2 separate regions of the Homo sapiens genome follow, and region 1 is reported to be linked to region 2. The links are microRNA targets in miRTarBase. Many come from high-throughput screens and were not tested one by one. Region 2 holds a microRNA gene; the other region holds the end of a gene's coding sequence.

Region 1 (4,528 bases), not on the chromosome of region 2:
AGCCAAGTTGAAAGTAGAAGTGAACACTTTTCGGTGAGGTCAGACACTCCTGATAGCTAGAGGAAGACTACAGAATTTGAAGTTATCAGACAAAGCATTGAGCTGCACCAGCTGCAAGGTGACCTTGGGCAAGTGATATTCTCTCTGGGCCCTTCCCCCATCTTTATAAACCAGTGGTGAAATTCAGACATCCTTCCCTGTTATCACTTCTTATCTACAGGCTCACAACCATGCAAAGGAGACACATCCAGACCCCGCAGACTTAAGCTCCAAGGGACCCAAAAGCCTGGGGTCGCTTCATGTTGGATGCATGTGCAGACCTGATTCAGGCACCACACAAATGCAGCAGGCAGAAATGAGTTTATTGCATTAGAAAAAACACCGAAGAAAACCAGCAAACACCTCCGTACTAGACAGTTATTAGTTTGACTCAAGGGCATAAAGAAAACTCAGATACTAGATTTACTTCTGGGAGGGGGTGATGGTCTCATCCCTCCTCCTTCCCTATCCCTTTAAACCAATGGACCTCTAGAGGTGTCCACTGTGCAATACAAGTACGTGACTCATTTCCCACTGTGCTTGCCTGTTCACATCCAGGCGGAGTTAGCCGGCCACAATGAGAATGCTCCTGAGGTGCTGGGACAGACAGAAATATGAGGATGGGGGTAGGCAGTTGAAGCCTGAGCCTGAGTTTACAGTTAGTGACAGTGGGGCTCCCATTGGGAGGGAGAGCTTGCCTTCCCATGGAGCTCTGGGAAAACTGCTCAGTGATCCCTCGCTCTCTCCCCACAAACCCTAGGGCACAGGCAATGGCACAAATGGCTGCTAGTATAAAGGGGGGTGCTGTTCAAGGAAATGAGTGACTCAAATTCTCTCAGGGGAGCTGCTCCTGGGCCTAAGGGTGCCTGCTGGAAGAAGCAAACCAGCTGAAACTGGATCTGGAAGAGGAGAAAGGAAAAAAAGGAGCTGTGATGCCCAGAACCCCCTGGATGGAGGGGAGACCCCAGGCAGAGGGGTCTGGAGCAGGACCCTGGAAGACAGAGCCGGGCCAGGCAAGCTGGAAAAGGGAACAACACTGGTGGGAAACAGAGCACTGGCCAAGACCAACCTGCTACCCTCCCAGAAGAAACCCAGCCTCAGAAATTCTTTCTCTTTGGGCCCAATTCTGCTAGTAGATCACGATTATACAACAGTCCCTGCTAGTTTCTGCTCTAATCTATTATTTCCATGCACACTGGCAAATCAGTGGGTCTTGAGAAGAATTAAACTTTCAATCATTTGGCCTCTACAAGTTCCCAAATGTCACTTGACATCCCAGCTGGTCATGCCCCTGGTCAGGTCGCAGGCAAACACTAAGGCAGAATGACAGCTCCTCTAGCTGAGACTCTGATGATGCCAAACTGTGATGGCTGATGGCAAAGATAGCAGCAGATGGGGCCAGAAATGAGCAGCAGCTTTTTGGAGAGGAAAGGCCTGTGCTGCAGGCCAGACTTCCAGGAAGAAGCAACATAATTCAAGTCCGTGAAGTGGCAAGAAGTTGTGGCAGAAGGGGCCCAAGGATGTCAGACCTGAGACTCGGGTACCTGGCAGCTCTGAGTCCCTTCTTCATGCTCACTTTCCCAAAATCTAACTAATGGAGGTTCATGTGAAGAGAGGGAATCTGAAAGTCTCTCTGGATTAGAGACTCCCAGACTGTTCCCTGCCTATAACCTCCTAGCAGCAAGTCATTAGGAAAATGCCCACTCATGCCCCAACCTGCCTTTCTAAAGTCAGAATGACAATGGAAATAACGTGTGCCTTCAAAACACATTTAGGATAAGGGAAAGTCCCTATCAGAAACGATTCTAAATTTTCTTGCCACCTTGATTCCACTTCATTATTTTATTTTTTTGAGATGGAGTCTCACTCTGTCGCCCAGGCTGGAGTGCACTGGTACGATCTCGGCTCATCGCAATCTCTGCCTCCCGGGTTCAAGCGATTCTCCTGCCTCAGCCTCCCGAGTAGCTGGGACTACAGGCATGCGCCACCATGCCCGGCTAATTTTGTATTTTTAGTAGAGACGGGGTTTCACCATGTTGGCCAGGCTGGTCTTGAAGTCCTGACCTCAAGTGATCTGCCTGCCTCGGCCTCCCAAAGTGCTGGGATTACAGGCGTGAGCCACCGCGCCAGGCCTCACATCATTATTCTTTCCATATCAAAGGTATTTTCTGGCCAGGCAGCGGTGGCTCACGCCTGTAATCCCAGCACTTTGGGAGGCCAAGGGAGGTGGATCACCCGAGGTCAGGAGTTCCAGACCAGCCTGGCCAACATGGCAAAACCCTGTCTCTACTGAAAATACAAAAATTAGCCTGGCGTGGTGGCACGCACCTGTAATCCCAGCTACTCAGGAGGCTGAGGCAGGAGAACCACTTGAACCCGGGAGGCAGAGGTTTCTGTGAGCCGAGATCATGCCACTGCACACCAGCCTGGGTGGTAGAGCGAGACTCCGTCTCAAAAAATAATAATAATTAAAATAAAGGTATTTTCTTAGAGTAGGGAATCCCATCCCTTGGTCCCCAGCTAAATACTGCGTACTGGCCTGGATGGTGGTTACAGAGACTGCAAATAACCTACATCATTACTTGCAGAAAAAAGGCCTTGGCTTCTACTGCTCCAGCCCAGACCTCATCCACTATGACAAGTCAGCTATGCTGAGGAAAGGCAGCCTCGGGGGCACAAAGGCAGGTTTCCCAAAATTGATGGCAGAAGATTGGCAATCCATCTAGGTGGAAGGAGGAATGGCTTTATCCTGTTTTCTCCGGCCTGATACTTGCTGTTACTCCCTTGATCCGGAGGCAATGGCTGCTCCAGCACTGGCCTTGCTTGGGGTAAGGGAGGGAAGGTGAGGGTTGTGGCTAAAGAGTTCACTTAGGTTAGGTTAGTCATCCTGAAACCGGTCCCATGTACACCAAATCCTTTGGTTCATTTAACACTAGAGTAACTTTCTGGGTCACGGATGTTCTAAAACTCACCTGGGTCCCACAGGTGTTGGCAACTTGGGTAGAGCGTGAGTGTTCTCTGGAAAGAGTTCTAGGTTGGGGCTCCCGCAAACTGTGACTCGCTTTCTGTTTAAACAAAGCCCCTCCCTTTCTCCAGTGTGGAGGACGCTTAGGAAACAGCATCCGAAGTGAACGCACAGACAAGACAGCCTTAATAAATTAGTATAATACTATTAGAAGGGGTGGCATTTTGTTCTGTTTCTTAGCAGCATTGTCTACATGCGGCCTGACGGTCTCCTTCCCTGGGAAATTTAAAAAGCCGTCCCCTGGTTGTTAGCTCTGATGTAAAATTATAAAATAGAAATCTGGTAGGGTTTGTTTTGTTTAAAAAGGAAAAGCCCTGGTGAGGCAGGGCGGTCCCAGGCAGTCCTGTTAGCTCTGGCCGTTGGGTCTGCCCACGGAGCTCCCTCCTGGAGGCTGGATCTGAATGGAGTCCAGGAGGGGCCGAAGTGCCTGTCCAAAGGGCCTGCAAGGAAACAGAGACATGAGAGGGGTGGGCTCTGGGATGTGGCCTGCTGTCACACACCCTGTGCTGCCCACGGGTAGGGAGGAGGAGTGGGCGCTGGTGGCAGCAGAAGCAGCACCAGCAGAGAAGGAAAGAGCACCTCGTCACCTCACTTAAGTTTCCCACCTGCCTCACACACCAGTGTTCTTGGAGGGCATCTCCGAAATAGCCTGCTCTGTATTTTTATTCCTGGGGTTCCCTCCTCAGGGCCTCACCTCTAGAGCCTGGTTAGCTGTGGTTTGAGTAGGCTGGCTACATACAGAGAACTAGAACTTTCTGTGCTCTATGTGCTTGTGTCTTTAATTCTTGTGAGCAAGGAAAAGATCAAATTTAAGCAGGGAAACTGAGGCAAAAGAAGAAGGATATGAAAAAGAAGACAAAGGGGTGAGGACAGCAAACAACTGGATTTTTTTCAGGAACAGAGGTCTGCCAGGGAGTACAGGGAATATTCTGGAAAAATGACAAATGCTAGGTTGCCAGTATTAATGCCTTTCTTTCACCCCGAGACAGAGTCTACCTCTAGCCTAGAGCTGGAGTGCAATGGCGTGATCTCGGCTCACTGCAACCTCTGCCTCCCAGGTTCAAGCAATTCTCCTGCCTCAGCCTCCCAAGTAGCTGGGATTACAGGCGTGTGCCACTGCGCCTGGCTAATTTTTTATTTTCAGTAGAGATGGGGTTTCACCATGTTGGCCAGGCTGGTCTCGAACTCCTGACCTAGTGATTTGCCTGCCTCGGCCTCCCAAAGTGCTGGGATTACAGGCATAAGCCACTGGGCCCAGCCATTAATGCCTTTCTAAAGGGCTCCTAGGTTGCTCTCATAGTAACAGATGGAAAAAAAACTACAAATACTGGAGTTTGGAGATTTTCCATGATTACGACAACCATAAATAAGGTTGCCCAGAAACTTTTAAGTCACTGGCTTTTTCTTCAGTGGATACTGCCATTTTTGAAAATCATCTCCAAGTTTAAAGGAATGAAGTACTCC
Region 2 (4,000 bases):
TATTTTGGTGGTTATCCTAGAAATTACAACGGGTATACCTAAGTTATCAAAATCCAATGTTGACCCCTCTTTTACCCTCCTAGAAAATCCAAGGTGTTTAGAGTATTTTATTTCCATGTTCCCTCTTCTGACTTAAGTTACTTTTGTCATGCCTTTTATTCTGTATTTTTAATCTTAGAGACATTATTAACCTTAAACAACAGAGACAATTTTTTAAAGATTTGCACACATATTTACCACTTTTTTTGTTTTTAATTCATTTTTGTACCCAGACCTTCCATTTGGAATCACTTTAATTTTTGTCTGAAGATCCTTGAGGCCTGCTAGAGATGAAATCTCTTGGTTTTTGTTGTCTGAAAATGAGTTTATTTCTTCCTCATTCTTGAAGATTTTTTCTCTGAGTATAGAATTCTAGTCTAGCAGTTATTTCCTTTCAGTATAATGATTATATCATCGCACTGTCTTCTTGCTTACATGCTTGCCACAGAGAAGCCATAGTCACTCTGTCATTCCTTTGAAGATAATGCCCTTTTTATCCCTGTAGGCTTCAAGATTTTCCCCTTAGTCTTTGTCTTTCTGTATTGCAATTAAAAATATATGTATTCCTCTCGAGATTCTCTGGGCCTTCTTAAATCTATGAATCTATGGATTGCTATCTTTTTTTTTTTTTTGAGATGGAGTCTTACTCTGTCACCCAGGCTGGAGTGCAGTGGTGCAATCTTGGCTCACTGCAACCTCTGCCTCCCAGGCTCAAGCAATTCTCCTGCCTCAGCTTCCCAAGTAGCTGGGATTACAGGTGAGTGCCACTACACCTGGCTAACTTTTATATTTTTAGTAGAGACAGTGTTTCACCATGTTGGTCATGCTGGTCTTGAACTGCTGACCTGTAGTGATCCACCTGCTTTGGCCTCCCAAAGTGCTGGGATTACAGGCGTGAGCCACCATGCCTGGCCCAATTGCTATCTTTATCAGTTCTGGAAAATTCTCAGTCATTACTTCTTTAAATATTGCTGCTTCTCTACTCTCACTATTTTCGTTTTCTGTAATTACAGTTAAATGTATTTTAGATCCTCTCACTACCCTCATGAGTTCTAACTTCCCTTCCATGTTGTTCATTGTTTCTGTTTCTCTGGCCATATGTTAGATGTCATCTGACATATCTTTCAAATCACTAATTCCCTTTTAACTATTTCTGTTTATTATCTTCTCCTTCTAGTTTTTAGTTTGGTTAATATATATTTTTATTTATAAAAGTTCTGTTTCATCTTTTAAAAACCTGCTTGTTCAGTTTTCATAGTTTCCTGTTCTTTGCAGATACTTTTTATGTGGTCTTTTATTTTTTTACATAGGGGAAGCATAGTTGTTTTACAATCTGTATTTGACAGTTCCAGTATTTGCGGGTGTGTTTCTGATTCTGATTCATGGAACCTGTTTTTCCTTGTGTGCTTAATTGTGTACTACTCTTTGTTCTTAGGAAATATTAAGGAGGGAGAATCTTGAGGCCTAGGAAGATGATGATTCTCTCAGAGAGTTTATGCTTATGCTCCTGTCCGGCATGGACGATACCCCAGCCCAGGATCACCCCAGACCAAGCACATGACTTACCATGACTCCCAGGCCCACCTGGGCTAACTCCCCATGACCGTAACCACCTTGGTCATGATCACAGTTGTGGGTCTCTTACCACAACTTCTCATGGTGTTATTTTCCTTTCCCTTTTTCTCTTCTTCTGCTTAGTGTCAAGGCAACCATCCCTGAAGTTTCCCAGAATTGGGGGTAGAGGTAGGGTTTATGTATGGCACACACTCATCCTATGGATGTTATATCTTGGGGTCCCAGCTTAATATGCGCAGTGTCTTCTATAATATCCTCCACATTAGGTAGGCACTGGGCCTAGATTCTTCCCCCTTTCCTCCAGGGGCTGCCAAAACAGAAACCCAGATTAACTCATGGTGGAGATGCCTTTGGGCCAGAAGGAGCTGTGGTGTTCTACTTAGGTCTCTGGGTTCCTAGTTTCCCTTAGATTTTTATCCTGAGAGCTTCTTACTATCTTGTCACCTCTGATGCTTTTAAGGATATTTTTTAAGTTGAGAAGTTTAGTTGTTTTAAATAGAGAGCAAGGGGTTTGTCTGACTAGCCTAGCCTGCTGTGTCTGGGAAAGGAAGTATTAATAAGACCTTAAATCATTTAATAACTATCATCTAGTACTGAAAAAAAAACGCGTGCTATGCAAACATAAGGTTTCAAATGTGGTCAGTCAGGATTTTGAAAACTAGAATTTTCATACACCTTTATTTTACGTGATGCATTATTTTAATATTGATGTGAAGTTAAACAAGGTCAGTTTGACCTTGTGTCCAGTGCAATTCCCAAATTTGACTGCTGCAGTTTACTGAAATTGCATACATACAACAGCTTTAGGTGCCTGGATTCACAGTGAGCTAGTGAAATAGCTGGTGATTTCATAGTGAGCCAGTGAAATAGCCATCCTTCCCAAGCACCCACAGTGTACAGTTATGGTATAGAGGGGCCTTGATGGGCATGGCCTTTGAAAGACATGAAAGCTATAGATTAGCCTATATTGTTGTCTGGTATGTAGTAGGTAATAACTGACAAACAGACAATTGCCTAACATGTGCCAGAAAACAACATAGGCAAGGCTTGCAGTTACAAAATAATGCATAGACAAATGTACATTTAATCAAATTTGGCTGGCTTGAGGGAATGGTTGATATACACAGCACAGACTGATCAATTTGGTAGTGTTAAGCAGAAAATCGCTCTTATAGGACAAGAATCTTGTAAAATTTTGAACCTTAGAAATATGCACTAATGACAGTGTGGTGTAGGAATAGATAGTGATGGGGAGGGCGTCGAGACAGGTACAAATAAGTAGTGTGTGTTGATTGACGGGCATGTCCTTTTGGCAAAGAGAGACTCCACCAAGAAAGTGATTGGGAAATGAGCTAAGAAAAGTGTGAGAGAAGAAGACACTTCAGTTCTGACATTCAAGAAACAGCCCCACTCTGATTTGGATAGGGGCAAAGCCTAACTATAGATCATTTTTCAGCCAACTACAGAATCTTTTTAGCTTTCCTTGCTTCTTTTTCATTTGCTTTCTCTTTCGAATTTGAGGAGTAGATTGCAGTTTAACCACATGCTATGAGCTCAGGCCTCTTGGGTGGCCTCCCTGGGTCTTAGACCAAACCAGTCATTAGGCTTTTAGAGAATAATTTTAAAATGCCATCCCTTAATATTGTCAGGGTTGTTTGAACTATGAGAAGAAGATAATGAGCATGAAGCAGGACCTTTAGAGGACTAGGTTGTCTGGAGTTTGTAGTTAGTTGAAAGGCTACAGGGTCCATTTATTCCTGTAATTTTATTTGCCTTCCTGCTCTGATGTATCATTATTTGTCATCCATGGATATGGAATTCATTCTATCATTCAATAAAATGAATGCTGACTCTGTGCTGGCTGCTTTTCGAGGCCTTGTGAATATTCTCTGTTTGGCGATTATTGTAATGGCCTTTTGCCATCATGACCTGGCCTTTTGCCATCATGACAGCATCTGACATGTACTGACATGTACTGAATACTTAGAATGTACCAAGATCGCTTCCTTAGTCATCTTATTTAATCCTTCCAACACTCTCATTGGGTAGATGATTTTACCCTAATTTTCAAAAGGTTAAGCAGTTTACCCACGATAGGTAGTGAGAGTCAGGATCTGTGTGTGACTGGCCCTAATGCCTATGCTTCCTAAGTAATTTCCTAAGTAATCAAAGCTGCTTTTAAGATTAACTTTCTCCAAAGATGCAGGTATTGCTCATTCCTTTTTTATAGCTGAGTCACAGACATAATGAATACTGCCAGTGAGCTGCAGTGAAACTGTATCTTTAAAAGAAAAATGTTTTTTAGGTTTCTCAATTCCCATGTTTTTGCTGTTTGCGTGATACCCCTCTGTGGAAATTAACAAACCTTTTGCTGTTGGTTTTTCAG

What was found. The annotated mature microRNA hsa-miR-4774-5p reads UCUGGUAUGUAGUAGGUAAUAA and lies in region 2 at 2,588-2,609, shown strand. An mRNA with a match to its seed (bases 2 to 7 or 8) in the 3' UTR can be bound and repressed. Matches are read on the target gene's strand: a 7mer-m8 pairs with bases 2 to 8, a 7mer-A1 pairs with bases 2 to 7 and ends in A, and an 8mer does both.
Region 1: miRTarBase lists DESI1 as a target of hsa-miR-4774-5p. Seed matches in the 3' UTR shown: 7mer-A1 at 3,343-3,349.

What each region holds. Positions count from the first base shown.
Region 1 is chr22:41,597,687-41,602,214 of GRCh38, forward strand. DESI1 (desumoylating isopeptidase 1) reads right to left here. Exons shown (of 6, transcript NM_015704.3): 6 at 342-3,504. The coding sequence ends at 3,411. Among named protein-coding and RNA genes, the nearest start is that of PMM1, 10 kb to the left of the region's middle.
Region 2 is chr2:168,580,366-168,584,365 of GRCh38, forward strand. MIR4774 (microRNA 4774) reads left to right here and starts at 2,578; the gene lies at 2,578-2,653. All of the region lies in intron 3 of CERS6 (ceramide synthase 6), which reads left to right.